Homo sapiens: one gene and its partners. The protein of the gene in region 2 purifies or fractionates together with the protein of the main gene of each other region. This does not show direct contact. Each region holds a gene or a part of one and is shown on either strand. Other genes may lie near its edges. The genes, in order: NEK9, PRDM11, GTF2H2C, LONRF3 and ACP1.

Evidence for each region.
Region 1: the proteins of PRDM11 (region 2) and NEK9 purify together in Homo sapiens (affinity purification with mass spectrometry; one large-scale study listed by BioGRID and IntAct). This does not show direct contact.
Region 3: the proteins of PRDM11 (region 2) and GTF2H2C purify together in Homo sapiens (affinity purification with mass spectrometry; one large-scale study listed by BioGRID and IntAct). This does not show direct contact.
Region 4: the proteins of PRDM11 (region 2) and LONRF3 purify together in Homo sapiens (affinity purification with mass spectrometry; one large-scale study listed by BioGRID and IntAct). This does not show direct contact.
Region 5: the proteins of PRDM11 (region 2) and ACP1 purify together in Homo sapiens (affinity purification with mass spectrometry; one large-scale study listed by BioGRID and IntAct). This does not show direct contact.

What each region holds. Positions count from the first base shown.
Region 1 is NC_000014.9:75,105,301-75,111,400, forward strand, and holds part of NEK9 (serine/threonine-protein kinase Nek9), read right to left. Parts: intron 5,072-6,100; coding exon 5,021-5,071; intron 4,578-5,020; coding exon 4,385-4,577; intron 2,188-4,384; coding exon 2,043-2,187; intron 1,403-2,042; coding exon 1,202-1,402; coding exon of another isoform or gene 1,166-1,201; intron 697-1,165; coding exon 650-696; intron 1-649.
Region 2 is NC_000011.10:45,151,999-45,158,098, forward strand, and holds part of PRDM11 (PR domain-containing protein 11), read left to right. Parts: intron 1-6,100.
Region 3 is NC_000005.10:69,592,544-69,597,409, reverse strand, and holds the end of GTF2H2C (general transcription factor IIH subunit 2-like protein), read right to left. Parts: 3' UTR 2,189-4,866; downstream 1-2,188. UniProt on the Homo sapiens protein: Component of the core-TFIIH basal transcription factor involved in nucleotide excision repair (NER) of DNA and, when complexed to CAK, in RNA transcription by RNA polymerase II.
Region 4 is NC_000023.11:119,004,429-119,010,528, forward strand, and holds part of LONRF3 (LON peptidase N-terminal domain and RING finger protein 3), read left to right. Parts: intron 1-1,692; coding exon 1,693-1,807; intron 1,808-4,697; coding exon 4,698-4,819; intron 4,820-6,100.
Region 5 is NC_000002.12:271,447-277,546, reverse strand, and holds part of ACP1 (low molecular weight phosphotyrosine protein phosphatase), read right to left. Parts: intron 5,682-6,100; coding exon 5,608-5,681; intron 5,511-5,607; coding exon 5,397-5,510; coding exon of another isoform or gene 5,242-5,396; exon of another isoform or gene 5,066-5,241; intron 2,408-5,065; coding exon 2,346-2,407; intron 568-2,345; coding exon 462-567; intron 321-461; coding exon 243-320; 3' UTR 1-242. UniProt on the Homo sapiens protein: Acts on tyrosine phosphorylated proteins, low-MW aryl phosphates and natural and synthetic acyl phosphates with differences in substrate specificity between isoform 1 and isoform 2.

The DNA of each region.
Region 1 (6,100 bases), on a different chromosome or scaffold from region 2:
CAAGGAAAGAAAAAAAAAAAAGAAAACAGAAAACCCAAAACACTGCTAACAATAAATGGTATAGCTGATTTAGCCAACCCTCCAATGGGTAAGCCTGTGCCCTAGGGTAGGTGGGAGAGATGTGACTGTGCTTTTCCCCCAGCTGGTATCAGCCTCTGTGAGCCTCTCACAGGGCCAGCTCTGGCAAGGCTGAGAGTAATTAGATAATATGTTTCATGCAACATGACCGCTAAACAAAAACAACTATTAATATTTCATCTGGTGGTCAACTGTAGAAACAGGAGAGGAAAATGGCTGTGTTGGGTTAAGAGACAGTATACTGCTTTACAGTATCTTCTCGAGTTTTCCAGGGTATTTGTAGCTATATGTGACTTTTCTGCTGTACACGCTGATTTTAGCTGTCATCCCTGAGTAAGATGTGACTTCACAATGTCCACAGTCGCTGTATCCACTTTCTCAATTTTCTGTGATTTGGTCAGATGACAAGACCACAGGGTGCTAAATCAGGAATCCTAAATTGTCAGTCTCCCAAACAGGAAACACTTCGGAAATAAATACCTTGATACAACAGAGCCAAGGAAAGAGGACATATTATTGGAGTCTGTGCGACTTAAGATAGGTTTTAGAAATAAGTTGCTTCTGATTTTACCTTTTGTGGTGTATAATAATCCTCTTCTGAATCCAAACCCAGTCGTCCTGAAACACACATAAGAATGAAAATCATTATAATGAGGGCTTCCTTCCCAGTGAATAGGTTCTGTAAGATTCTCTTTTGCCAGGTGCGGTGGCTCACACCTGTAATCCCAGCACTTTGGGAGGCCGAGGCAGGTGGATCATGAGGTCAGAAGTTCGAGCGAGACAAGCCTGGCCAGTGTGGTGAAACCCCATCTCTACTAAAAATACAAAAAATTAGCTGGGTGTGATGGTGTGTGCCTGTAATCCCAGCTACTCGGGAGGCTGAGGCAGGAGAATCACTCGAACTCGGGAGGTGGTGGTTGCAATGAGCCCAGATCATGCCATTGCACTCCAGCCTGGGTGACAGAGAGAGACTCTGTCTCGAGAAAAAAAAAAAAAAAAAAAAAAAAGATTTACTGAATTAACACTTCTCATTTAGGGGCTGCATGATGGGTTTAGATGCATACAACTTTGAAGTCAGGTTGTATACCTGTGAAGAAGTGGACAGAGACAAGGCTACCCCTACCATATTCGCCACAGCCCCAAGAATAGACTTCCTTGTTTCGTGTCAGAACCACCACATGATTATCTCCACAGGAGACCTGCTCCACTGGATTGCTGAGGAAGAAGTTCAGCTGCATGGGTTCTAGCACTTCAGGGCCAGCAACTTTGTCCACCCCCATGCAGCCATAATAATCTGATCCGAAGGCATAGAGCTGACCCTCATCTGCAAAAGAAAGGAAAACAGAATCCATCAAAGGACTGACTTATTTTATCTAATCAGAAAGTTGGGCAGGGCTGGAATGAGGACTACCCCAGCAAATGATCTCACATGAATTGATTATATCCAAGAAATTAAAAGGACAGACTGTGCAAGTCTAGAGTTCTATGTCAGAGAGTCATGTGTACTACTACTACTATATTAAACAATTTAAAAAGTGGTAGCATTATCACATTAAAAGGACTTAAAATTTTAATGGGGCCATCTTTGTTATATAGATAAAAAAATAAGTCCCAAGGAATCATTAACTAAGTAATGACAAGACCAAAACTAAACTTAGGTCTTGATCCTAATTTTGTGTTATTCATAGCCTGATGAGGTGGTAAGATTATTTTTCCTGCCAACCACGACACACATTTTCTCCTGATCCCACCTCTTCTCTGTTACCCACCTGTCTTCTCCTTGCTCACCACCCCCTAATACTATAGCAAATTTGGTATGTTATTATTAATGAGTATATTTGCTCAAGGTCCTCTGGTTCTTTGTATACTGTCTTTTGTTTTAAAATCCCAACTAAGATTGCACAGCATTAAGCAAAATACCCCCACATTAAATGCACTTAAGACACTTTCTGCTGATGGCTTACCAGTCACACAGACAGTGAAATCATCACCACATGACACCTGACGGATAGCTTTGCCTTGCAACTTTTCCACATGCTTTGGCTGTCGATAGGAGGCTTTGTCTCCATGGCCCAGCTGACCATGGAGTTTAGTGCCTCCTTGCATGTTCTGTGAAATAAAGAGGTCTTATGACTTTTTTTTTTAATTACATTTTATTAAACTTAAATTTTAAAGAGATGGGTTCTCGCTATGTTGCCCAAGCTGGTCTTGAACTCCTGGGCTCAAGTGATCCTCCTGCCTCGGCTTCCCAAAGTGCTGGGATTGTAGACATGAACCACCATCCCCGGCTGAGAGGTCTTATGAAGTTTTAATTTTTCATGCCAAAAGCTGATCTTTAATGGAACTTCATATGAAGAAAAACAGTAGAAAAAAAGAGCTAGAAATTTAGAAATTAGAAAAAAATGGGCAAAGGGATTAAACATTTTAATAGCAAGTAGTATACAGATCCTGCCAACAGGTAAAGAAAACTTAAAAAGTATCCAGATTAATATCCATTAATCTAATCTTTGTCCTTCAAGTCTAAGGTAAACTATATATTTAATTACAGGTGATGGTGAAAAAAATTCTTTATAATATAGTCTAACTTTGTTGCTTTCTACAGGAATATAGCTTCTTGAAAATCTGTACTAGAAGTTTCATAAATTTTGGTCACAGTTTCCCTGAAACATGGAAGAGTTATAAAGAATCTGGCTACATCAAAGAGGCTGCTATACAGCAATGAGACTAGTCCTTGATGACTTTTCAACTTTTTTTTTTTTTTTTGAGACAGAGTTTCGCTCTTGTCACCCAGGCTGGAGCGCAGTGGCTCGATCTCAGCTCACTGCAAGCTCTGCCTCCTGGGTTCAAGCGATTCTCCTGCCTCAGCCTCCCAAGTAGCAGGGATTACAGGTGCCCGCCACCACGCCTGGCTAATTTTTTGTATGTTTAGTAAAGATGGGGTTTTGCCATGTTGGCCAGGCTGGTCTCGAACTCCTGACCTCAGGTGATCCACTCGCCTCGGCCTCCCAAAGTTTTGAGATTACAGGTGTAAGCCACCATGTCTGGCCTTTTCAACAGTTTTATAGAGAAAAATAATTCTATTAAATGAGTATACTACAAGTCCTCATATTTTATATATATATGTGTGTGCGTGTGCGTGTGTGTGTGTGTGTGTGTGTGTGTGTGTGACAGTATATATATATATTTTTTTTTTTGAGACAAGGTCTTGCTCTGTCACTCAGGCTGCAGTGCAGTGGTGCAATCTTGGTTCATTGCAATCTCCACCTCCCAGGCTCAAGTGATTCTCATGCCTCAGCCTCCTGAGTAGCTGGAATCACAGGCATGCGCCACCACTCTCAGCTAACTTTTGTATTTTTAGTAGAGATGGGGTTTTGTCATGTTTGCCAGGCTGGTCTCAAACTCCTGGCCTCAAACAATCCACTCGCCTTGGCCTCCCGAAGTGCTGAGACTTCAGTTGTGAGCCACTACGCCCAGCCAATAAATGTTTAAGATACTAATTTCTCTCCAGCAGCCTGAAATGAGCCTGAGAACGCATAGCAAGAGACAGGAGGAAAGCCAAGAGAACATGCTATCACAGAAGGCAAGTAAAGACAAAGCTTCAAGAAGGAGGGAGTGGTCAACTATGTCAAATGCTGCCGAGAGGTCAAGCTAGGTAAGGACTAAAAAGCATCTGTTTTATTTTAGCAATTTATGGGTCATTTTGTCAAGACTAGTTTCAATTGAGTGGCAGTGGCAGAGATGGAAGCTGCATTGTAGGTGAATGAAGAGAGAGTGGGAGATAAGGAAACAGACAGCAAACACAGACAATTTGTTAAGGAAGGTGAGAGGGGAGAATCTAGAGGGCAACAAACAAATTCTACACAAAATATACCTAGCCATCTTCAATCACTGCTGTGGGCTTCAGGGGTTTCCTGACATGGTATAGTCCTTCCTTTGTTTACAAAGCTATTTCACAGGTAATAGTTGCTCTGAACCTCATGGTAATATAACAGAGTAATTGAGTGACTTGTCTGAAATCATCCAGCTGTAAATGGGAAACCCCAGTCTCCTGAGTCTTTCAATTTTTCTCTCCCTCTCTCATTCATTCATTCAAAAAACATTTATAGGTGACCTAATATGTACCAGCCCTGGGCATACATCAGTGAACTAAACAGACAAAATCCCTGCTCTTATAAGAGCTTCCATTCCATCACCCCATGTTGCCACTCCCTTAGTATAGGTTCAACTAATAAAATGCTTAGACATCGTGGGCCCAGTAAACAATTAGGCTTACAGCACTGTTCCAAAATGCTTAGCGTTCACTTACCACCCAAGTGTACAGTTCCTTCTCCACTGTGACCACAGCAAAGTGGGTATTCCCTGCACAGACCTGCCGGGCACTACAGCCACTCTTGATAACATCCAGTTTCTGGGGGGTGGATTTTCCACCACCCCAAACATAGACTTCACTGGTTCGTGATGTTACTACAGCAATGGGTGCTTCAGTCACAGTGCTTGACCTGCCAACAACCCCCAGAACAAAGGAACATTTAACATTAAAAACAATATCAAAGAAAAATGCTTCCAGTCTGTTCCCTGAGAAGAACTGCCAATTATGGTATGAGAAAGTATGTTCTTTCTCGACAACTTGTTTCAATGTGCTCTATCACAGCAGACTTTGCAATTCCTGCCTCAGGGCTTCATCACAGCTTGGCCAGATCAGATTCCAGTCTGACCCATAACACCTACACTTTTCCACATTCATCATGGTAATGATGGCCACTTTAGTGTGAGGGTGAAATTATAGCTTTCTTCTTAGAAATGACTGTCTGACATTTAAGCAGATGCTGGCTCCTGAAAGGATGCCAAAGTATCCTCGGATCAAATAATGCCTACACTCAAGAAAGAACCCCCTGGTTGTAATTTCGGATATATTAGTTTTTAAGAGTCTCTTGAACATTACCTTGGTCTCTTTGTAGGTGCATTAAGCAGAGTGACTTTTTCCTCCATCTCTCTACCAAAAGAAAAGCAAAGATACATGAGTGAAATAATAGGTTTTTATATTGCAAAGGTGTCTGTTTAATACATTTCACAGATTTAATCCTCTTATAAACTGTATGCATCCTACAACATCACAATACTTTTAGCAAAGTACCTCAATACAACTCAAAACAGTTATATAGTCCTTTCATTAGACAATTCATTAAATACCCAAAGGCCAGCAGTTTGGGGCCATTTGCTTTCTGTCTCTGAGAAATGGTCCAGGCTGGAACAGAGAGCCTTGAGAACCTCTGATGTACATATTTAGTATCTGATGGACACCTTCATCTAGTCTGCCCACTGACTCCCAAACTCAGTATCTCCAAATATGAGCTTGTTAGCTTTTTCCCAAATGAGCTTTTCTTTCTGACTCCTCTATTTCTGTAACTAGCCGCAACACCCTTCCCCAATTCTCCCAGTCAACTGGGCTTAAAACCTCAGTCATCTCTGATTCATCTCTCTCCCTTTCTTTAATATTCAGGTTCTACAGATTCTACCTATATAGTACTTTTTGTACTCACCTCTTCCTTTCCAGTCTCACCACCTTAGTTCTGGGTAGCTCTACTTCCCACCTGTACTGTGATAATACCTCCTAATCAGCCTCACTTACTACAGTCTTAATCATTTTACTATACTAATTTAACACAGATACTAATATTGCCAAATAACTCTTCCTTAGGTATGCCTCTCATCACGTGAACTGCCCTCTCGCAAACATCCACCATCTCTCAACAGTGGATGTGATACCCACTCTATCTTTTGCACTACCTCTTGAATTAACCACAATTTTCTTGGCCTGGCATGCAAGATTTCCTACCTATTTTTCCAGACTTCCTTCCTTTTGTTTGCACCCCACGTTCTAGCCCAGGGCTGTCATCCTACCTAAATCAATTATAGCTGAGCTCCTAGAGTAGTGCTCAGGCATCAGTACTTTTTGAAAGCTCCTGATATTTTGCATCAAAAATCCCAGGTCTAGAACCACTAATCTAGCCAAATAGAATTT
Region 2 (6,100 bases):
TATCTCCATGGCATGCCCCCTTGCCTCCCCCAGGACTTCTGCTCAAATACTACCTTCTCATGGGCACATTTATTTATTTATTTATTTGAGACAGGGTCTTACTCTGTCACCCAAGCTAGAATGCAGTTGCATGATCTCAGCTCATTGCAACCTCCGCCTCCTGGGTTCAAGTGATTCTCCTGCCTCAGCCCCCGAGTAGCTGGGACTACAGGCACATACCACCACACTTGGCTATTTTTTGTATTTTCAGTAGAGACTGGGGTCTCACCAGTTGGCCAGGCTGGTCTTGAACTCCCGACCTCAAGTGATCCACCTGCCTCAGTCTCCCAAAGTGTTGGGATTACAGGTATGAACTACCGGGCCTGGCCATGGGTACTTTCTTGTTTAAAATTGCAACCCACCCCAACACCCTCTCTCTGCTTCCTGCTTTTTTCTTTTTAGTGCATAGCACTTATCCCATGCCCCATGTTTTACTTTTTTATTTTGTTTTCTGTCTGCCTCCCATCATTTTAATGCAAGTTCCCAGAGAGCTGGGTTTTTTGTTACTTTTGTTCACTGCTGTATGAATAGTATATGCCATATGGTAACTAGAGCCTCAAATACTTGTGGAATGAGTGAATTAATTGAGCACTTACTGTGTTCAAAGTGCTTTATCTGCTTTGTCTTTTTAAATCTTCACAGCGATGCCCTGATCATGGTATTGTTATTTCCCCATTCTACAGTTTAGGAAACTGAGACTCAGAGAGGTAGCATCACTTGCCCACAGTTTCACAGTTGGTGATGAAATTCAAACTCAGGGCACCTGATTCCTGAGCCCTCCGGCCTAACCCGGATACTTGGCCTTGACTAGGCTGTAACAGGTCCTGACTGCTGTGCTGAGGAGTTTACAATCTGTCTGTTGGGCCACAGGGAGCCTCAGAGGGTTTTATGAGGAGGAAGCTGACATGGTGATCAGATCCATGTTCCGAAAAACAGCAGTGGCTTGGGCATAAGGCTGGAGGCAGGGAGGCCAAATAAGAGGCTTTCGTAGTAATTGAGGTAGGAGAGGATGAAGGTGAGAGCTGAGAGTGACCATTCCCAGGGAAAAGTAGGGGAATTTGGCCCTCTACAGCGAAGGTCAGAGCAGATGGGTTGGGGCTTGGTTCTGGAGGCCAGTTGTTTCCCCGAGTGTGCCTGACTTCTGCTTCTGAGTAGCGAGGGGACCCGCAGATAAAATCCAGCAAAGTGCCTTAGGCTGGTCCCTTGGCAGGGAAAGGGAACTGAGAAGGAGCCAGGGAGCCAGCTGGTGGGGTCCACACTGTTCCCTGGAGAGGGCGTGGGCCCCAGGTTCAGTCCTGCTTCTGGCACCAGATAGCGGTGAGATCTGAGCAGGAGGCTGTCCCTCTTGGAGTTACCCATTTTCTCATCTGCAGAACGGGGGCAATGCCACTACTGGCCTCCAAGGGCTGCATGGACAGCTCCGGAGAAAGACGGAGCACCAGTGAATGGCTTAGGGCCAGTCTTGGGCCATCTCCTGGGTGTGAGGCCAGTGGACATGGGGGAGGCATGGGGGTCCTCTCATGCCTCTTGCTGGCGATGGGACAGCAGTGCCTGAATACAAGACAATGAGCATATCTGCACTTAAAGGTGATCTGGCCACAGCCTCAGACACTCATGGTGCCCCACTGTCTTGTGTTCAAGGCCAAATATTTAACTGCGCCTCAGTTTCCTTTCTGTAAATGGACTCAGTAATATCAGTCCTGCCCTACATTCTGTGGAAGATTTTTTCCTCTGTGTTTGCAGGACTGAGTTTAAGGTGCTGTTATCTCTGGGGCAGTAAACACCTAGAAGGAACATGTATGGAGCACCAGGACACTGACAACAGCCCCGTGAGGTTACTCCCGCATCCACATATGGATGAGGAACCTTGGGGCTCAGAGAGGTTACATGACCAACTGAAGATCACACAGCTATCATCTCATTTTTCCAATCTTCTTAAGAAAACCACATTGATAAAGGAAGTCTTTGAGGTTGCCTATTTGTATTACATAATAATTCCCAGAAGGTTTCTTGGGTGATTTAAAAATAGGATTTGGGCTGGGCACAGTGGCTCATGCCTATAATCCCAGCACTTTGGGAGGCTGAGGTGGGAGGATCGCTTGAGTCCAGGAGTTTGAGACCAGCCTGGGCAACATAGTGAGACCCTGTATTTACAAAAAATGAACAAAATTACCTGGGCTTGGTGATGTGTGCCTGTAGTCCCAGCAACTTGGGAGGCTGAGGCGGGAAGATCACTGGACCCTGGGAGATCGAGGCTGTGATGAGCTGAGATCGCACCACTGTACTCCTGCCTGGGAGACAGAGTGAGACCCTGTCTCAAAAAATAATAAATCAATAAAAGTAGGATTTGATTTATAGAGTGTTGGTTTCAGACCTTCTCCCCATCCCAGGAACCTCACAGGTCAGAAGTTGCGGACACATTCAAACAGACCCGGAGCCTCCGCTGAAATGATACTGGGTACGGGAAGTGGAGTAGGGGTGGGGGCAGATAGCTGCTGCCCATCCTGCTCCCAAGCAGCAGCCTTAGATCAGGGGTTGGTGCTAGTGGTAGGGGGGTCCCTGCTTGCAAAGTGAGGCACCCCAGGCCTCTGGAGCCTTCAGTGCCTTCTAGAGCTTTCCCTTCCAGTCCTGTCTCCCCTACCTCATCCGATCCATAAGAGCAACCAGAACTCTCCTCCTCCCAACTGCACCTTCTCCCGATCCCTGATCACTAGCCCAGGCAGGTTGGCTCTTAAAACCCCCATTTTATAGCTCAGAAAACTGAGGCTCAGAGAGGGGAAGTGACTTAGAGCTCATACAGTTTAGGAAGTAACCAAGCTAACATTCTAACCCCAAATCTAGCACCCCTTCCTCTGCACCCCAGTCCTTCTGGAATCAGAGCAGAATGGGGACCCCAGAGAGTGTTGTTGTAGCCTCTGTACCCTGCTTCCCAAACAGAGAGATTGTCCAGCTACTGCAGGGAGTGTGGCTGGAAGGAGCTTGGGGTAGAAAGGGGGGTAGTGGCCGGTGGGCGCCTTCCCCCAGGCTTGTGTCAGAGTTGAGGGCGAGAGTGGGCCCAGCAGGCAGGAGGATCACTTTGACTAGGGCACTGAGCTGGGCTGGTATGGACGTCACTGAGCAAGTAAATATGGAACCGCCCCCACAATGTCAGCTTTCCCGGAGTGGCTTCTCCCACTATCTCTCACTTTCCCCAAGGGAAAGGGGTGAGGGCCAGGAAAGGATCTGGCTGCCCGATGCCAGGGGATGGAGATGGCCGGCTTGGGAGGCTCCACGATGGCCAAGGGGCATGGGGAGGAGCCCACCAGACCCTCAGCCCCAGAAGGAAGTGAGCTTCTCTTGGGAGCAGCCAACTGGGACCCAGCCAGGGCGGACTCAGCACCGTCATGGCCCAAGGTACAGAGAGGGCGGGCTCTGGGGGTTGCCGGGAGGTGGTTGGCTGGGGCTTGTCCCTGACCTCACAGCCCTTTACTGTTCCAACCCAAACAGAGTGTCATTTTCCCAGGGGCCAGGGGTGCCCCTCTTTAGGCCGGCTGTGTTCCAAGAGAAAGAAAGACCAGCCAGAGGGGGTTTGCATTTGGAGAGGGGGTGCAGGGGTGCCTCAAGGAGGGGTGGAGAGGGAGGAAGGAAAAGCCCCTTAGCCTGAGGGAGGCAGAGGGCAGGGAGGTGAAGTCCTCAAGGGAAATCAGCAAGCTTAGCAGCCAGGGAAACCGGCAGTCTCTCTTGACCCCAGAGAGGAGATATTGGGTCTCCAGAAGAGCAAGCAGAAAAGGAGGATCCAGGGCAGAGTGTCTGGCTGCCAGACCCTGGGCCTTTTATAAACATCAGCGACAGCCGAGCCCAAATGAGTGTGGACGGGCATGTTCCATTCAACCCTCATAGCTGTCCCATGATGCTAGTGTTATTAGGTGCAGTTTACAGAGGTAACATTGAGGCCCAGAGAAGTGAGGTGACTCACCTAAGGTCACACAGCTATGAAAGGCTGAGCCAGGATATGAACCTAGGTCTGTCTGATTCCAGAGTCTGAGCTCTTTATCACAGCATGGGACTGGCTTGCTGGGACTGCAGTGGGAGATAAGGTCAGCCATCCATGCTGGGCAGGAGTTTGGATGGCTAACTTACAGATTCCAAGTTCCTTCCCCTGAGATGATGGGCAGTGTAAAGAAAGTACAGCATATGAGCCACTGTGGCTCAGGCAGGTCACCCTCTCTGTGCCTTTATGCGGCCACTTGAAGAATGGGGATGCCTAGCATAAGGACCGGCCATGTTACAGCATTTTCAAACCTTCCCATCCATTGTCTGGGTCAGCAGATGTTCATGGAGCGGCCCCTTGTGCTCTGGGGTCCAGACGTACACACCTGACTCTTGATGGGCCCTGCACCAGGTTCCTCTTGGAACACTGGGAGCACAGTGGCTCTGCCAGGCAATGGAGACCGTGGTCCGCAGACCTCTGCCCATCCTGAGCTGTGCTGGATGGGTGTATGGTGAGAGACATGCAGACTTTGAGAGAAAGCCTTGAGAAACTTGTTTGGCAACTTGACATTGCCACATCATTTTTAATTTTATTTCACAAAAATATCTGTTGGCATCAGATTGGAAAACTTAAAAAGTAAAGAAGTCACTTCACCTCAAATTTCTTGAGCAGCTCTTGCCTGGGTCTTGGGATTGAAGGTAGGATGCGCCTGGCTTGCTCATGGATATGGGGCAGAGGAGAGCAAGTCATTTCGCCCTGGAGGTGGAGAGGGAGGATCTGGTTAGGCCTCCCAGAGGAGGTGACGATGAGCTGGACCTTGAGGGAGGAGCGGGGGTTTGCCAGGCGGAGGGAGAGGGAAGGGCATTTTAGGCACTGGGAACAGTATGTGCAAAGGCAGGAACAGGAGGACCCCATGGTTCAGGAATGGCAAGCGGTCATGGGTGTTTAGAGAAGCAGTGGAGTTGGCTGGGGAGAGGCAGGTGAGGGCCAGGCCGGGAGGGCCTTGAATGCTGTGTGAAGGAATTGAGACTTTGCCCTGGAGGCACGGGGGAGCTGTCGGTGGTTTGTAAGCAGGGGAGAGAAGTAGTTAGCTTTGCGCCACAGAAACTCTGTCCAGGTGGCAGTGGACTTGAGGTGGCCATGGCTGAGTAGGTGGCTTAGAGCAGTGGTCTCCAACCTTTGGGGCACAAGGGACCATTTCATGAAGGACAATTTTTCCATGGACGGGGTCGGGGAGGATGGTTTGGGGATGAAACTATTCCACTTCAGATCATCAACTGTTCCACCTCGGATCATCAGGCATTCGTTCAATTCTCAAAGGAGCACACTCCTAGAGCCCTCGCATGCGCAGTTCACGGTAGGGTTCGCGTCCTATGATAATCTAGTGCTGCCTGTGATCTGACAGGAGGCAGAGCTCAGGCGTTAATGCTTGCTAGCTCGCCTGCCACTCGTCTCCTGCTCTGCAACCTGGTTCCTAACAGGTTATGGATCAGTACCCATCCGTGGTCCAGGGGTTGGGGACCTACGCCTTAGAGGACCAAAGAGGCCATCCAGGTGTATGCTTCCTTTCCACCGCCAACCTCCCAGAAGGCTGTTCCTCGATTGTGTCTTGTGGAGTAGGTTGCTGATGCACAGGCCTCTCTTTGTCCCCTGAGTCGGTCCTGGCTGATGGGCAGGCAGCCCTCGGGTGTGAGCAGCATGGCCTTTCCAGGCTGGCCTGGTTGGTGGGGTCACACCTGGGGTCATGGGCTGGCCATGGCAGAACTCTCTTGTCCACACTGCCTGCCCTACTAGAGCTGCAGGAACGTGGACTGGTGGGCTGTCAAATGGGTGCTGGGTACAGTTTGGGGTACAGTCCAGAGCCGTGTTCAGGGAAAGCTGTCAGAAGGGAGGGCTGAAGTTTGAGCTGAGGTTGGGCCATTGCCCAGGCCCTGGGTACCTGGTCTCTGATGGCATGGGGTCTGTGCAGGAGGTGAGCAGTGGGCAGCAGGCTGAAGTGGCTTCCTGCATGGATCCTCTGATGGGCCAGGGCTGAGACCTGCCTCTGTGGCCTGAGGAGCAAACATCTGGTTGAGGTAGCGAGGGAAAAGT
Region 3 (4,866 bases), on a different chromosome or scaffold from region 2:
AAAAAAAATCCAGATTTAGTTTCTCTTTAAGTATCATTCCCAGAAGAAAAAAATAGGCTGGGGCCAAATAATGGTTACCTCACTTTATTTTTACATTTTTTTGAATTAAGTAACAAAATTTAAAAAATACAAAAGGATGTACAGTGAAAAGTACATCTCCCTTCTATCCCTGATCCCCAGACTCTCAGAGGCTGCCTCCTTTAGATGGGGCGGGTGCTTTCCAGATGTCCCCACTCTGCATCAACTGGCCCTCTTTCACTTATCTGCATTGTCTGCCTGACCCCTTTAGACATCTGAGCTGCCTCCCAACCCATTTTACCACGCCTCTCCTGCATCCCCTTAACACTTGGCATGTCTGTCGTTAGCACTTTCACACAAGCTTCTTTACAAGGCTGTGTCTTTTTAGATGGGGAGATTCACAGATGCATGAGGTTAGGTTTACATCTTCTTTTGACTATCTACATCCCTGATAACTAGGATGGTGTCAGACTTATGGCAGATGTACAAGTTTGTTGAGTGAATTAATAAATTAATGAATGGGCAAATTGTGTATTGTTTCCAGGGTCCTGAGGTGTGACGCAAATAGCAATTCAGTCAGGTGAAATCAATAATTTAGATCCCATCAGGATCCCAGCCGAGTCCCCAGTCCATCTTGTAACACTTCTCCCCAGAACATACTTAAATTACCTGGAAATAATGAATCCTCTGCCCTTACAGAACTGGATCCAAAGCAGGCACTAGGGCACTCTAAGACTACTTCTCAGAAGTGTGACAACCTCCTGTACCCTTTTTCTCCTTACTACAGGGCCCAAGGACTGAAACTTCTTACCTTTTCTCCTAAACTCTGCCACCCACTAATGGCCTCAGGACTGGGATTCCACTAACCCACTCCCCAAGGGCTGATTGCACCCTTTCTTTGTCACCACTCATGAAATCATTTCATGCTATGAATTGGCCAACCGTTCTAGAGATATAGCTGAACACAGACATGACCAGAAACATGAGGAAGTTATAAAGTATTGAGAAATCCTTCTAGAAGTAGATGCAATGCCACACCACTGAGCACGAGATCTGGCTTCCTGAGCAGTTACCAAAGGACGAGATGACACAGCCCTGTGGGCAAACTAGGATCAACGGGAAATGGAAGAACTTAGGAAACTAAGTTACTTCTCCTTCCTCCCTTCAATGGACTGCTCAGAGGGGCAGTTTCTCCTTATAAACCTTCTGGAGAAGCCCCACACTCTAAGTGAACACACTTGCTGGAAGGCTCCTGTATCTCGTCACAGCTTGTCATGAAGCCTGGTCACTGCAGTAACACAATGCATCACGTTTTTCCTTGCTTTGCTTTCCCTTTTCTTCCACACTCTCACCCCCCTAGATCTGTCCCTCCCTAATAAAGTAACAATACTTTCATCTTTGCCTCAGGTTCTACTTCCTAGGGGACCTAAGTTAAGAAATTCTTGTTGTTGACCAGGCGTGGTGGCTCACGCCTGTAATCCCAGCACTTTGGGAGGCCAAGGCAGATGGATCATGAGGTCAGGAGATCGAGACCATCCTGGCTAACACAGTGAAACCCCGTCTCCAGTAAAAATACAAAAAATTAGCCAGGCGTGGTGGCAGGCACCTGCAGTCCCAGCTACTCGGGAGGCTGAGGCAGGAGAATGGCATGAACCCGGGAGGTGGAGCTTGCAGTGAGCTGAGATCGCGCCACTGCACTCCAGCCTGGGCGACAGAGCGAGACTCTGTCTCAAAAAAAAAAAAAAAAATTCTTCTTGTTGTAATTTATTGTTGTTGCAATTTTTGTTTGTTGTAATTTCTAGGGTAACCACTGAAAGAATAAAAACAAAGTATACAATTTTCAAACTAGTGACGAAAAACATAGAATGGTAGAAAGTAAGTAATCAAAAAGAAGGCAAGAAGGAAAAGATCGTATCAAATATGTAGTTAAAAAAATTTAAAAAAACGAAAGATGGAATTGTTGGAACCAATAACACAAAGATAATAGACTTAAACCCAAATATATCAGTGGTAATCTTTTAATAAATATTTATATTTATTATATATATTTATATATTTTAATATATAATATATTAAAATATATATTATATATAAATATATATAAATATATAAATATAAATATAAATAATATATTTATAAATATAATATTTATAATAAAATATATCAGTGGTAATCTTTTAATAAGTAAATATATTTATTAAATATAAAAGGTACACAGTAAATATAAATGAACTAAATGCTTTAGTTAAAAGACAATAAAAATTATGAAATAAAAATGTATACACTTGAAAGTATTTAAAATAAATCTAATTTTCATAATGAATTTTAAGCATTAAGGAGTTTTGTAACTGAATAGTGGAACTCAGAAAGACATCCTATTCAGAAGGATCTCTCATGATAATAGTTTCCTTCACTATTGTAGTATACTGTAGAGTTTCAAGAAAAAAATTAAAGGCCAAAACTGTCTTACATTACCATTGCTGTTTCTGCAATCTTCAACAAACCAAAATTTTCTCTGTAATTGTGAAAAAAGAACTCCTCCTTAAGCATAACTAAAATTTTGCCTTAACCTTATCAAATACCCAAAACTGTAGAAAGAGATAAAGCTGTTAATAGAGACATGGGTATCCCTTTTTATCAGGTCAGGAGGGTAAGTCTCTAATAGAGAGTTCTAGTAACTTCTCAAAAGGTAACTAATGAAGGCCTTCCTTCTAAACCAGATAGGGGGAGATAGAATGCTCTGAGTATTAAAGGCATCTCCTGCAAGCCACTGATACCTTTGTTGACAGAGCACACAGAAGAAAATAGCAGTTACCAGGTTACCTATAGGTGAAATTTGTTTCCACATAAAGAACCACTGGGTCCAGGCTCATGGAGTATGACTCCTGAGAGAAACTCCCGTTACTCTGATCAGTGTGTGTGTGTGTGTGTGTGTGTGTGTGTGTGTGTGTGTGTATTAAAAATGAATATTCCTGGGCTCCCAATAAACTCTCCAGGGTGGGATTACGTTGTCTTTACTGATAATGTTCTTAACTAAAAATTCTTAGTTATAAAATCACAAATTTCGGCCGGGCACGGTGGCGGAGGTGGGTGGATGACCTGAGGTCAGGAGTTGGAGATCAGCCTGATCAACAAGGTGAAACCCCGTCTCTACCAAAAATGCAAAAATTAGCCAGGCGTGGTGGCAGGCGCCTGTAGTCCCAGCTACTCAGGAGGCTGAGACAGGAGAATGGCTTGAGCCTGGGAGGCGGAGGTTGCAGTGAGCCAACAGCAGGCCACTGCACTCCAGCCTGGGCGATGGAGCAAGACTCCATCTCAAAAAAAAAAAAAAAAAAATCACAAATTTCATAGTGAAACTCAAGTTAGAGTACCTGAAGTTTATATACATAAAATAGACATACCTTTGCTATGAAAGCCTGATTTACTCTTTTTTTTTTTTTTTTTTTTTTTTTTCTTGAGACAGAGTCTAGCTCTGTCGCCCAGGCTGGAGTGCAGTGGAGCGATCTCGGTTCACTGCAAGCTCCGCCTCCTGGGTTCACACCATTCTCCTGCCCCAGCCTTCCGAATAGCTGGGACTACAGGCGCCCGCCACCAGGCCCAGCTAATTTTTTGTATGTTTAGTAGAGACGGGGTTTCACCGTGTTAGCCAGGATGGTCTCGATCTCCTGACCTCGTGATCTGCCCGCCTCGGCCTCCCAAAGTGCTAGGATTACAGGCGTGAGCCACCGCGCCCGGCTGAAAGCCTGATTTACTCTTAACTGGATATAACCAGAAAGAGTTCTGCCCACAATGATATATCTGCATTGAATCTAAAACACAGACTTCATCATACATTCTCACCTAAATTTCTCTGATGACCCAGAGTAAGGCAAAAGGTTTAGCATATGAGAGTGAAAGGATTTGAATCTCACTTTCTGTCAAACTTTAGAGCTCTGTTAACCATGGTTAGTATCAACTATGATTTTAGGCAACTTTGCTTATAGTAAAAATAACTCGTTAATTGTTACGTATCTGGATTGGGATGCACTATAAATAAATGGAGTCTTCAAGCTTTAGGCTTTCCTGAGTGTAGTGACTCTTGAAATTGACACATCCCTTGTGGATACCTGGAAGCTGTGTTTATGGAATTGTTAAGAGATATTGGTTCCTTGATGCCTGTGGAGGATCTTATCTCCTTGCACCCAAATTGTACTAGTGGACTGCTACAAGGACTTCCACTGCTAATGAGGACTGCTTGATGCTGTGCTGGCAGGCTGTTGTTTCTGTTTAATATCCTTCTGAGTAAGCGGGTACCAAGTATGGCCATGGCAGTCTTGTGAGTTTGAATGTTTAATGTAAAGTGACTTCTGTTGGTCATAGCCACAAATAATTTCAGATGTACTAACTTGATAAACATATTCCAGATGTTTGGTTAAACCTAAAAAGACCTCTCTGGTGGATGTAGCAGTACATCATTTCATATGTATTAATTTCATAACTTTTTTTTTTTTTGAGAGGGAGTCTTACTCTAGGGTGGAGTGCAGTGGCACAATCTCGGCTCACTGCAACCTCCGCCTCCTGGGTTCAAGCGATTCTCCTGCCTCAGCCTCCCAAGTAGCTGGGACTCCAGGCGTGAACCACCATGCCCGGCTAATTATTTTTTGTATTTTTAGTAGTGACGGGGTTTCACCATGTTGGCCAGGCTGGTCTCGAACTCCTGACCTCAAGTGATCTGCCCACCTCAGCCTCCCAAAGTGTTGGGATTACAGGTGTGAGCCACAGCGCCCAGCCTAATTTCATAAGTATTGATAAATTTTCATCTTACACTGAATTTACATTCAGACTTAACTTTCTTCTTACACTAAATTA
Region 4 (6,100 bases), on a different chromosome or scaffold from region 2:
TGCTCCACACGTAACTGATATTTGAAGACCAATACAGTAAGTTTGCCTATGCAGAGATTAATGGGATTGTGTAACACAGTGATCCTCAATCTTGGCTGTACATTAAAACCACTGGGAGGCTTAAAAAAAATTTCTGATGCCTGTCCTGTACACTGGGCCTACTGATCTGAATCTCTGTAGGTGCTGTAGTGGGCATCTAGAGTTTTCATAGGCTCCCCAGGTGACTGGGGGAGGCAGGAAGGAGGGCTTACAAAGGGGCATGAGGAAACATTTGGGAGGGATGGGTATGTTTCCTATCTTGATTGTGGCGATGGTTTCATAAGTGTGTACATATGTCAGAACTTATCAAATTGTACACTTTACGTCTGTTCCATTTATTTTATGTCAATTTTGCATCAGTAAAGCTGTTTAAAGATAAAGCTGTTCAGGTGATTCTGATGCACAGCAATGGTTGAGAATTATTGTTGTAATAGAAAAGGCACATGACTGAAGTGGAAGTTGGATAGACTTTCATCTGTCAACAGTTGGCTGTGCGCACTTAGACAAGTAACTTCAACCCCTGTGGACCTCAGGTTCATTCTAGTTAGTGGGTTCAGTTTCTTCTCAAGTACTTTTCAGCTGGCATGTTGCTTCTTCTACTCAGTCTGGCAGTGCTGGCCAGGCTGCTGGTGCACCTCCTGGCCACACGAGGGAGCCGTGCAGCTGGCAGCCTCTGACTCTCCACTGAACACTCTTGTGAGGTGAAAATAGGCTGGTCAGGCAGGGGTCTTTCCCTTCTTCCTGTGCTGCTCCTCTTGGTGAGTGCAAGCCCCACTCCTCAACGGTCATCTTCAGCTACCCTCACTCACTGATCTCGCTGCAGGTGAGCCTTTTTTTAAGCAAAGCAAATCCATTAATTTCTGAAGGTACAGAACAAATTTATAAAAGGATTCCCACATTGCTTTGAAAATATCCTGTTCTCCCCAAGCAATTAAAATAGTACCAAATTGAAGTATATGTATGTATATATATGTATGTACACATGTAAATGTATGTATATATGTGTGTATATGCATCAATATAGATCCATATCTAGTCTATATCAGTAAGCACACTAACAATACTATTCTCCTGCCCCTATGAAAATTATCTATATAAAAGGCAGTTATGTTTGTTAGAGGTACAATTTTGATATCCTTCAGGCATTAACATTGCTTAGACGAAAAGAGGAATCAAGGTTAGCAAACGGTTTTTTTCCATGGTAATATGATGTAAAGTGCTTAAATGGGTAAATGTGTAAGAGAGAGAATGTGTGTGCGTGTGTGTGTGTTTGTGTGTGTGTGTTTACATATACTCAGGTGAACAGGTTGGCTAAATATTTTCGGAATGGAATTTATCCAGACACTCTGTGCATTAATCTCTATTTTTCTTGGACCAGACAGGGCAAAAAATCTGAATTCCCCAGAAGAGATAGACTAGAATTGATGTTACAAAATGATCTAGCTATGCCCTAAACTTTAATAAATGTATTTTAATCCAGCTCAAAAATGAAAGGCAAATGTTTATCTGAAGTATAACAATAGCGACTTTTTAAAAAGAACTCCTCCCCCACCCTAAAATATTCTAAATAATGCTTTAAAAACTTAGCTTTGAGTCACTCTTTTATTTTTGGTCTTATTGCAGTTTTCTTCCATTTTGATTCCTAAATTTCAGATTATTCTATGAGCCAGTCACAACACCTTGCGGGCATACTTTTTGCTTAAAATGCCTAGAAAGATGCCTAGATCACAACGCAAAGTGTCCATTGTGCAAAGACGGTCTTTCACAGGTAAATCAATATTTCTTTCTTGTTTGGTTTAAATCAGTATTTCTTTCTTGTTTTGTTTAGTTTATTTGGAATTGGGCACTAAGACAGTGTTCAACTGGACCCCCAGCCACGGCACTGTGGTAGGGCACATTACTCCCTCAAACCATCTATTTCTCCTGTCTTCTTTTTTTTTTTTTTTTTTTTTGACTGAGTCTCCACTCTCCCACCCAGGCTGGAGTGCAGTGGCGTGATCGCGGGTCACTGCAACCTCCGCCTCCTGGGTTCCAGCAGTTCTCCTGCCTCAGCCTCCCAAGTAGCTGGGATTACAGGCGCATGCCACCACGCTCGGCTAATTTTTGTTTTGTTTTGTTTTGTTTTGTTTTGTTTTGTTGAGACGGAGTCTCGCTCTGTCGCCCAGGCTGGAGGGCAGTGACGTGATCTCCACTCACTGCAAGCTCCGCCTCCCGGGTTCATGCCATTCTCCTGCCTCAGCCTCCCCGAGTAGCTGGGACTACAGGCGCCCGCCACCACGCCTGGCTAATTTTTTGTATTTTTAGTAGAGACGGGGTTTCACCGTGTTAACCAGGATGATCTGGATCTCCTGACCTCATGATCCACCCGCCTCGGCCTCCCAAAGTGCTGGGATTACAGGCGTGAGCCACCACGCCCGGCCTAATTTTTGTATTTTTAGTAGAAATGGGGTTTCACCATATTGGTCAGGCTGGTCTCGAACTCCTGACCTCAGGTGATCCACCCACCTCAGCCTCCCAAAGTGCTGGGATTACAGGCATGAGCCACCACGCCCAGCCTATTTCTCCTGTCTTATAGCCACTGTCCCCCTCTCCATAAAGTCCTTCAGGAAAATGAGGCAACATGCAGCTTTTTATGCAGTGTAAGTAGGGAAATTAATTTGTGTTGGAAACGAAAGTATTAAATAGATGATAAACTTGGATCCTGGTTCTAATGTCATCGTGGCACCTGATACACTGTAATCTTGAGTAAATCTTTTGTCCCCTCTAGGATTGGACTAGGTAAGCCCTGATGTTCCCTTATCATCAGTGTTTATTCTGTGGCTTGAAGATAACAGCTCCAAAGGCCCCAGAAGAACCTCACAGAACTTCAGTGTGATCCTTGTCCAACCCATCAGGAGCCACTGTACCTGGAAGCCCTAGAGCTTTTGCAGACCGCAGCCCTCTAGGACTTCCAGGTTCTCTAAAACTAATCACACAAACTCCCACCTTTGTTTTTCAAGTGAACCTGAAGGAATTTCCTACAGATAAAGAAGACCTGAGAATCTATCTTGTTTTCCCTCCCTCAGGGACTTATCTGCCACATTTTACAATCGGTGTTAATGTTCCTTGACCCCTGTCATTCCTGAGGAGAGGTTGGAGATGCAAGGCTATCTCTAGGTGACTACAGGTCAAGAGAAGTCACATGTTGAGCTTTACCATCACCCCAGTATTTAAATTAAGGGAATGGAGTGAAATCATCATCACTGGTAGCCCTGAGGGTATGCGTTGGGATTGGGAGGAGGGTCAATGTCATACCTTTCCCTGGATAAAGTTGTAGGATTTGCAGGCCTGATTGTAGGTGAGAAGTCCTTGATCCTTATACTGAAATAATACATCTGTGTTGTTGTAGCACTGGAAAATTCAGATTAAGTGGAAAGAAGAAAAATCTACCCATATGCTCAGTACCTAGAGAAAACCACTGTTAGTTAACATTTTAGTATGTGCCTTTTCTGGCTTTTTGTTTTAGTATCAGCAGAGGAGTCACCTACTTTTTAGACTGACTACCTCCTCAGTCAATGCTTATCCCCCACAACTGGGACTGGGAAATGCAGTTGATTTTCCCATAGCCAGGCAATGGCAGTGACAGTGGCAGATAAGGCATCCTGGAGACAGATGCTATAGAGTTCAGGACTTGGGGTCTAGAAGATATTCTCATCTATCTCTGTTTATTCACATAGGGTCACACTTGCACCATTTTACATAGAATTAAATATTCCAATCATTTTCACTGCAGAATAGAGACACAGCCCATACTGAGAAAGGAACAAAATTGTTTGAAGCCAACAGTTTTATACTCAGGCGCTCCCCCTGCTGGGACTGTAGGGGTAGTTTCCATAGCAAGCAATTCTCTGCAGATGTTTTAACATCAGTTGTTTGATTCACACCGTTAAATACCCACTACCTAAACATCCCTGGGTATGCATCGGACAGGGGTGTTTGGGAGGAGAGTAACAGTGACAATTGAGCCTGAGTCCAGTTCTTGAAATCATGACTTTTAATCTCAGTGATACCTAGATGGTATATTAGAAAGGCAAATAGACAAATCAATATTTAGCTGTTTGTGTTTTTTTAAACTAAAATTAAAAGAGAAAAAATAGGTATATTTGGCAATATCCAGAAGCCAAGCATTGGGTTAGGCTGGGAGTGGGACAGGGCAGGAAAGGTTCAGTGATTGAAAATTGCTTTTTAGTTCCCTGAAACTTTTGGCCACTAACTTTGAGCATATCCCAGATGGAGACAATTTCTGTGAGCTTGTAAATACAATCATCAGAAAATGGAAAGGGAAGAATTCCCCCCACCCTACTTTTTGGACAAGAACATGATCTTGATTTCAGTGTTTCAGAAAAACTGTGAGAGTTTTAAAACTTCAATGCAGGTTTTACCCCCTTGTTAAAAATTTTTTTCTAATTATAAAGATAATCAATTGCATGTGTGTTTTTTTAAATGAAACTAACATCCAGAAAATACATATATTATGATGGTAACAGCTGCTAATTTGTGGGTCCAGATTACTCCAATATGTGGGTCATTTGACTTGTTCACTGATTACATCAGAAGTGTTTTGCTGATTGCTACGTATTACCTAATTGCATATTGTCTAATTGCCTCCCCCCATGTAGTGCTTGGCATCAAGAAAATACAGCAAAAATGTAATAATGGAGGAGCTCATAGCTAAATTCCTTCCAGAAGAACTGAAGGAACGAAGGAAGCTTTATGAAGAGGAAATGGAAGAACTTTCTAAGTATGTATATGCATATTTCTGTTTTGTTTCACTCATACCAGCTCAATGAGAGCTGAATGTGCACATTACTTCCCAGCTTCCGACTTAGTGATGTCATGCTAGCTGCTTGAAATTGGCTATGGTGAGAGTATTTACACCATGGAAATTGGCAAGTGCTACAAACCAGGGTTTCCGCTGCACCCAGAGAGCCAGTTGTTAAACATACCAGCATACCACTGAAGAAGCATAAGCGAAACCAGTGATGAGGGTACGCCCTGCCCCCAGTAACAGGGTATTGTTGGCAAGAGTAAATTGGAGTAGCATAAACAGGGGAACTTAACGAAATGTCCAAAAGATTGTTTTCAGATACATAAGGAGTTGCTATGAGGTTAAGAACTTTGGTGTCAACCAGAACCGGGCTTAAGACCCAGTTCTACCTCAAAGTGAGTCTACTTCACGACCCTAGGCAGGTCATTTAACCTTTCTGGGCCTTAGTTTCCTTATCTGTAGCTTGAGAATAATTTAATAACTTGAGTTCTTACCTCATGGACTTCTTTTTTTGAGATTGAGTCTCACTCTGTCACCCAAGCTGGAGTGCAGTGGTACGATCTTGGCTTACTGCAACCTCCGCCTTCCGGGTTCAAGCGATTCTCCTGCCTCAGCCACCCGAGTAGCTGAGATTACAGGCATGCACCACCATGCCCAGCGAATTTTTGTATTTTTTAGTAGAGACAGGGCTTCACCATGTTTGCCAGGCTGGTCTTGAACTCCTGAACTCAAGTGATCCTCCCACCTGGGCCTCCCAAGGTGCTGGGATTACAGGCGTGAGCCACCATGCCTGGCCACCTCATGGACTTCTTATGAAAATCAAATGAGTTTGTGCATAGTAAGCACTTAATTAATGGTAATAATACTAATACTTGTCAAGCGCTTTCTCTGCCGTGCACAGGTAATGTGAGAGGTGAAGGGGAGGGGCAGAGGCGTCATTGAGGCTCTCAGCACTCTGCCTGGCTGTAAGAACAGCTCCCTTAGCAGAAAAAGCAGGAGGCAATCACTAATTTCTGCCTCTCTTGCTTCTGCCCTCTCCTCCCTCCATCCGCAGTAGAATCCTAACAGCATTCCAGAGGCAAGGTTCCTGACAGCAAAAATGGTTCTGGTTTCATGCCCACTGTGTAGAGAACATTCGTAAACTCTGCCAGTGGCTTGTTTGAATGCACTCCTCACTTAGACTAATGCTTTTCTCAGAAACTAGAAATCGTTTTTTTTTTCTCATTAATTTACATTGGAACTACTCGGGGGATC
Region 5 (6,100 bases), on a different chromosome or scaffold from region 2:
TTCAACTAGTCTAAGAATGCTTAAAATACCCCATAAGCTGTCTGAATCAAAGATTTTTATTGATTCTCCTGCCAAACACAACTGATTTCCATCTACAATTACTTTTTAAGGTAAGAAACAGTAAGTCAACTGAACAAAGAGCTGGGCTTTGGGCCCTGGAACGTGATTACACACCGACTGAGAAATGCAGGACCTCAGGGTGGGGTCTAGTCAGGCTGGCCGCAGCAGGGCACGAACCTGCCTCAGTGGGCCTTCTCCAAGAACGCTCTGCAGCACCTGACACACTGCTGGTACACCGTCTCAAAGTCAGAGTCATTCCCCTAAATGGACAGGAAAAAGAAGAAAATGGCAAAACCTGCATAACAAAAACATCCTTAACACAATCTCATCTGTTATTTAATATGGCAGGATACAAATGTGTTGGGTCTTCATATTAGCCCTAAAACGTGAACTGTACTTACATAATAGGGATCTTCAATAATAAGTTGTTTTTGTGGATCATAGCTCCCAAGTAGTTCAATTTTAGCTTTGCAGGTTTTAACTTGATTACTTTTTCTATTCAAATCTCTGTAAAATTGAAATATGAACTTAGTTTTCTGATCTATGGTTTCAAGTTAAACAGGGACATCTGCTAGGGTGTTCTGAAACATCCATATCAAAATCAAGACAGAATGACCTAATTTGAAATGAAACGGAACACTCAGCAGGCCCGTGTGGCCCCTTCTGCAGCTGTATGCCACTGCCCTCTCTCTAGGCAAGACAGTTTGCGACAGCAGCTTATTCTCACTGATTCTGTTACACAAAATATACAATAATTATATTTTCTCCCACAAAATACATTTTAAGACAATCAAGTTTCAGAGATAAAGGTCATAGAAAGGAACCCAAAACACCATCTGAACCAGTCCCAAAACAGAGGGCTACCAATTCCATCCTCAGGTGTCTTGACACAGCACTTCCCACAGCACGACCCACTCCTTAATTACTCTTCCATCTTTTATTCCTTAAGCCTCTGCCCAAGCTGAAAACTCAGCTTCACTCTAGACTTCCACCCTTAGCTTTCACATTGCTACAAAAGAAAAAGGCAAACTTAACTAAGCGCCTCCATTTATTTAACAAATTTCGACTGAGCACCTGCGACAGATGAGTTGATGAGTCAGGTACGTGCTTTATGTGGGAACGGAACAGCCAAGAGCTCCCATGCACGAAGTTTTACAGCTCAGGATTAGGTGCAGGAATGAGAACTGCAGGCAGGCCTAAGTCTAATGCACAATCTGGCCTAATGACAGGGCAGCAGAATACCTCTATCAAGAAATGAATTTAAGCTGACCCACGAGGGGCAAATAGGAGCCGAATGACCCAAGAAGCAAGGAGGAGCTTCCAGGCAGAGGAACAGCACGTGCAAATGTGAGGCTGCAGGAACTCCACTTGCCCCACACGCAAAGAAACACGGTGCTCAGTGCCAGTCAAAGCAAATGGGGTCTCCTAAAAAGGTGTTTTTACGATGCCTATGGGCTATGGTGTCAGCAAAAACAATGAGAACAGAATAAGGACTGAAAAATAAAAATTAAAAAATACATGCATTTTAATGAAGGTCCTAATTAATAAAAAATAATTGAAACTGGTGCATCCCTATCTGTTCATTTGTACAAAAGTAATTAAAAGCACAAATAGTTTATCTTCATCAAAAACATGAGATATTTATGAATAAGTAGTGATGCAAGTCAGAATCCTGGAGTGACATTAAATTATGATCCGTTCCCGATGACGCCTTGAACATGGGACTGGGGCAGGTCAGGAGGGTGGTGACTGAGGCAGGGGTGCATACAGCAGGGCCCTTCCTCACTGAGCCTAGGCTTAAATCCCATGACATCCACCACATGCTAGCTGTGTGAACTCGGGGACATAACCTAACATTACCGTTTCTCACTTCCTTCTTTTACAAGATGGGATAATAATAGGAACCTATGGTTGCAGAGCTTTGACCTGAGAATCAATAAAACACTGCCCTGCCCAGGAATCATTACAGCAAAAATATCAAAATCGTTCTCATGCAGAACAATATGCTTGATACAAAACTATAACAGCCAAGCTAGTTTTCCAATTAAATCATGCTATTAACAACTAGACTTTCCCTTTTCTAAGGTGTATTTCCTTGTAAATACCTAAGAGACAATTCTAGATTACTAAGTTTTTTGCTGTTCTAAATAAAATAATTCTACATATGGTGACCATCACTGACTATTAAAACCTTTAAAATAGAAAAAGTAAATCTGGACAACAAATTACTTGGCCCACTGCTGAACTGAGAGTTGAACAGAAATATTCTTCAAAAACAGGATTACCTCAGATTGCTTTCATCCATACATAGTATATAATCAAATGTGGCAAAATCTTCTTTGGTAATCTAAAATTGAATAAGAAGTCAAAACACAGTGTTTATACCATTCAAGCCTAGAGGATGCAAAGCAATACTAAAAGAAAAAAAAAACTGCTGTATTTGAGCCTGTTACTCACTAATAAACAATTAAATAATTTTTAGGGTACTTTTAAGTTAAAATAGAGTTAACCTATTTCTCAAAATTGTACTGCAAAGAAATTTTGTATTATAAAGTTCCATACAATAATCATAAAATAGTATAATGTGTAGACACAATGTTTATACATCGGCTTCAATTCCTTAGTAGCAGTGTATAATACAGTCAACATACTAAAATGTCACATATTTAATCCCCTTCATTATTCTACTCTATTTTTCATTCCACAAGCACTGAACATCCTGGGCCCCAGTAACAAACACCAAGCTAAGTGGACAGAGCCGCGTCCCATGGAGCTGCCCTTCCACATGGGGGCAGGCAACACACAGGAGGCACAGATGCCCTGGAGGAAATAAAGCAGAGAGGAGATACATACAGCTTTGGGGCAGGGAGGAGTAAAAGTATTAAGTTGGGTGGTCAGAGGTGGTCACTAAGAAAGAAACACAGGAGTGATAACTGACAGTCCTCCTTTATTTTGATTGACTATCCATAATTTAAACCTCACACAGAAGAGAATGCCACTCAGTATTTCTACTGATTGTAACCTGAAAGCTTATGATTGTTTTCTGATATAATCTATAAACACACCTACTTAAAATACAAATGAAAAGATTATTTTGTGAATTTCGACTACTATAAATAATGGCAGAATAAGAAACATAAACATACGTACTGCGGAACAAAGGTGGAAAGTGTATACCTGTTCTTCTAAAAAATGAGAAACTTTGGCTTTTAGTATGCACTTCCAGTAGCTAGAAAAGACTGTATTTCGTCAACACTCCCATGACATTGACTTATTTCAAAATTGAGAATAAGTACAATACTGAATTTTTTCTTTTTGTTTTTAGAGAAAAGGTCTCACTCTGTCACCAACACTGGGGTACAGTGGTGTGATCATAGCTCACTGCAGCCTCAACTTCTTGAGTTCAAGCCAACCTCCTACCTCAGCCTCCCAAACAGCTGGGACTACAGGCATATGTCATAGCACCCAGCTAATTTTTAAAATTTTTTTGGTAGAGATGGGTCTCACTATGTTGCTCAGGCTGGTCTTGACCTCCTAGGCTCAAGCAATGTTGAGCCTCCCAAAGTGTTATTAGGATTATAAGTGTGAGCCACCATGCCTGAACAGTATTATATTATTTCTCCAAATTAGTTATGTGAGAAATTCCCTAGGATTTAATACTAAACTTGTTTTAAATTCTGGACTAATTGTAAATTTTTCATAAAAAAAGACTTAGTAACTGTTACATAATTTTTAGATGTTACAATAATTGAGAAAGAAACAGCTATAACTTATGTAACAAATGCACAATAAAGGATTTCCACTTGCAGCTATAAATGAAACAGCTTGTGGCAAATCACCCCTACTACTAAAAACAACTAGAAACGCCATATAAAAAACCAGTGCTGCAGAGACAGTCGGGCTTTGTGGCCACCAGGCCGCTCTGGCTGTGCTGCTCTAGCACAAAAGCAGCCGCGAACTACAGGTGAATGAGTGAGTCTGGCTGTGTTCCAACAAACACTGTTCATAAAAAAGGTGCCTCAAAAAAAGGTGCAGGCCCCAATCTGCAGACTCCTGCCACTTGCCACTTCTCTTCCTGCTAAAACTGGAAAGTGATGAGACCTCAGAACAGGGATCTCAAACGGTTCAGTAGCAGAACTCTTGAACTCTGTAAAATTATTTAAATCCTATGTTATGGTTTGGATGTGTCCCCCAAAGTTCCTTTGTTGGAAACTTCATCCCCAATGCAACAATAGTGAGACGCAGGATCTTTATTAATGCCACTATCTTGGGAGTGGGCTCCTGACACTGATGGGTCCTCTCTCTCTCTCTCCTCTGTTTCCCTCTTCCCGTTTTTCTAGTTCTCGCTCTCACTCACTCTGGGGCACTCTCTTGACTCCTCCACCTTCTACCACAGGACGATGCAGCAAGAAGGACTTCACAGCCCCATGAGCCCCTTGGCTTTGGACTTCTCCAAATAAATGTATTTTCAACAATGGCCAGTAGAAACTGGCAAGGTATGCAAATCCTGAAGAGATGAGGATGGATAAATTGTATAAAAATGTTGAATCACCTGACCAATGAAGATTCCATTTCCGAAAAGGTCAGTCCCAGAGTACTTCATTTAAATAAAGAACTCTTAGAAAAATCAACTTTAGCTTCTAATTCATAATATAAAGACAAGGTTATCTTCAATTGAAATTGCAGAATTTGATTGTGACTTTATTAGACTCCAAACTTAAGTGTGGCCCAATAGACTATAATTATATATCCATAATGTTGCTGGTATTACCCTATATTACTAAGGCACTTTACAGTTGAAAAAATGTTTTTGTATATATTATATAACCTCATTCTAGCAACAAACTTGCAATATCAGCAGGATGATTACTATGGCCTAAATGTTTAATAAAAATTATGCAGGAAGGAACAGAAGACAGAGCACCGCTCAGCCCCAGCTCACAGTCAGGCTCTCTCATTATAAATTACCTAGCTTTTATGTGCATTTTAATAAGTAAATTCCAAAGTCAGGCAAGTCTTTCAACACCGTGCAACCAGAAGTGAAACAAAATGGACACACCATAGCTGGTTAAGCTCACCCTAAATAAACACATTCATTAATATACAAGTCTGGTTAATCCTTTCGCTACTTCTCAAGTTACTGGACTCTATATATTAGAAATTGAACAAGAGCTTGTCTACCTGTCTTGCTTTATGGGCTGTGTGAATGCCATGATTTCTTAGGCAGCTCACAGCTCTTGGGTCTGGGGACCGGCCCACGTTCCAGTCAGAAACAGCACCGCTGTCAATGACCCACTGAAACACAAAACACACAACTTCAAGTCCAAGGACGGTACCTGCCGGGCAACGTGGCTCATGGGAATGCCGTGCCTCTTCATGCAGCTCTGCCCTCGGTAGTCAGGGGGGTTCCCTATCTCATACCCGGAAGTTGCCGCGCTGTCTACCCTCCACTGCAGGGGAAGAAACATGGAATTTTTTTTTTTTTTTTGCAATTTCCTGCCCAGAGGAGTTCAGGTTGGCCTCTTTAAGATAATGAATGGTACTTACATTCTCTGAGATGTTTTGATCGGTTACAAGTTTCCTGAAAACTGCTTCTGCAATGGGTGATCGACAAATGTTACCTTTAAAAAAAGGGAGGGGTGGGGAAACAGGGTTAGGTTGGATGGAAGGGCACATGCCAGCTCCCCTTCTTTACACACCTGACACACGGGGGCTGTGCTATCCCTCAGGAAAAACAAAGGCCAACACTATCCTTTGACGCCTTTGTCCAACCAGTGAGGGTAGACCCTGCTGGAGAACAGCCTATCAGGCTCAAGTTCAGTGATTTGACACCAACCAGCCAAGTACTCCAAGTACAGATGACAAAGATATCAGAAAAACAATTTCAACAAAAATTATTGTTTAAAGAGTTGCTACTAATGATCCAGGAGTGAATCACGAAAATGAAGTGGGTTGCAACCAGCTTATTTTAAAATGAAATACAACAGAATAAAAATAAAATACAGTGGTCTGTCCCTCAGTAGACTCAGGAGCTGGTTCA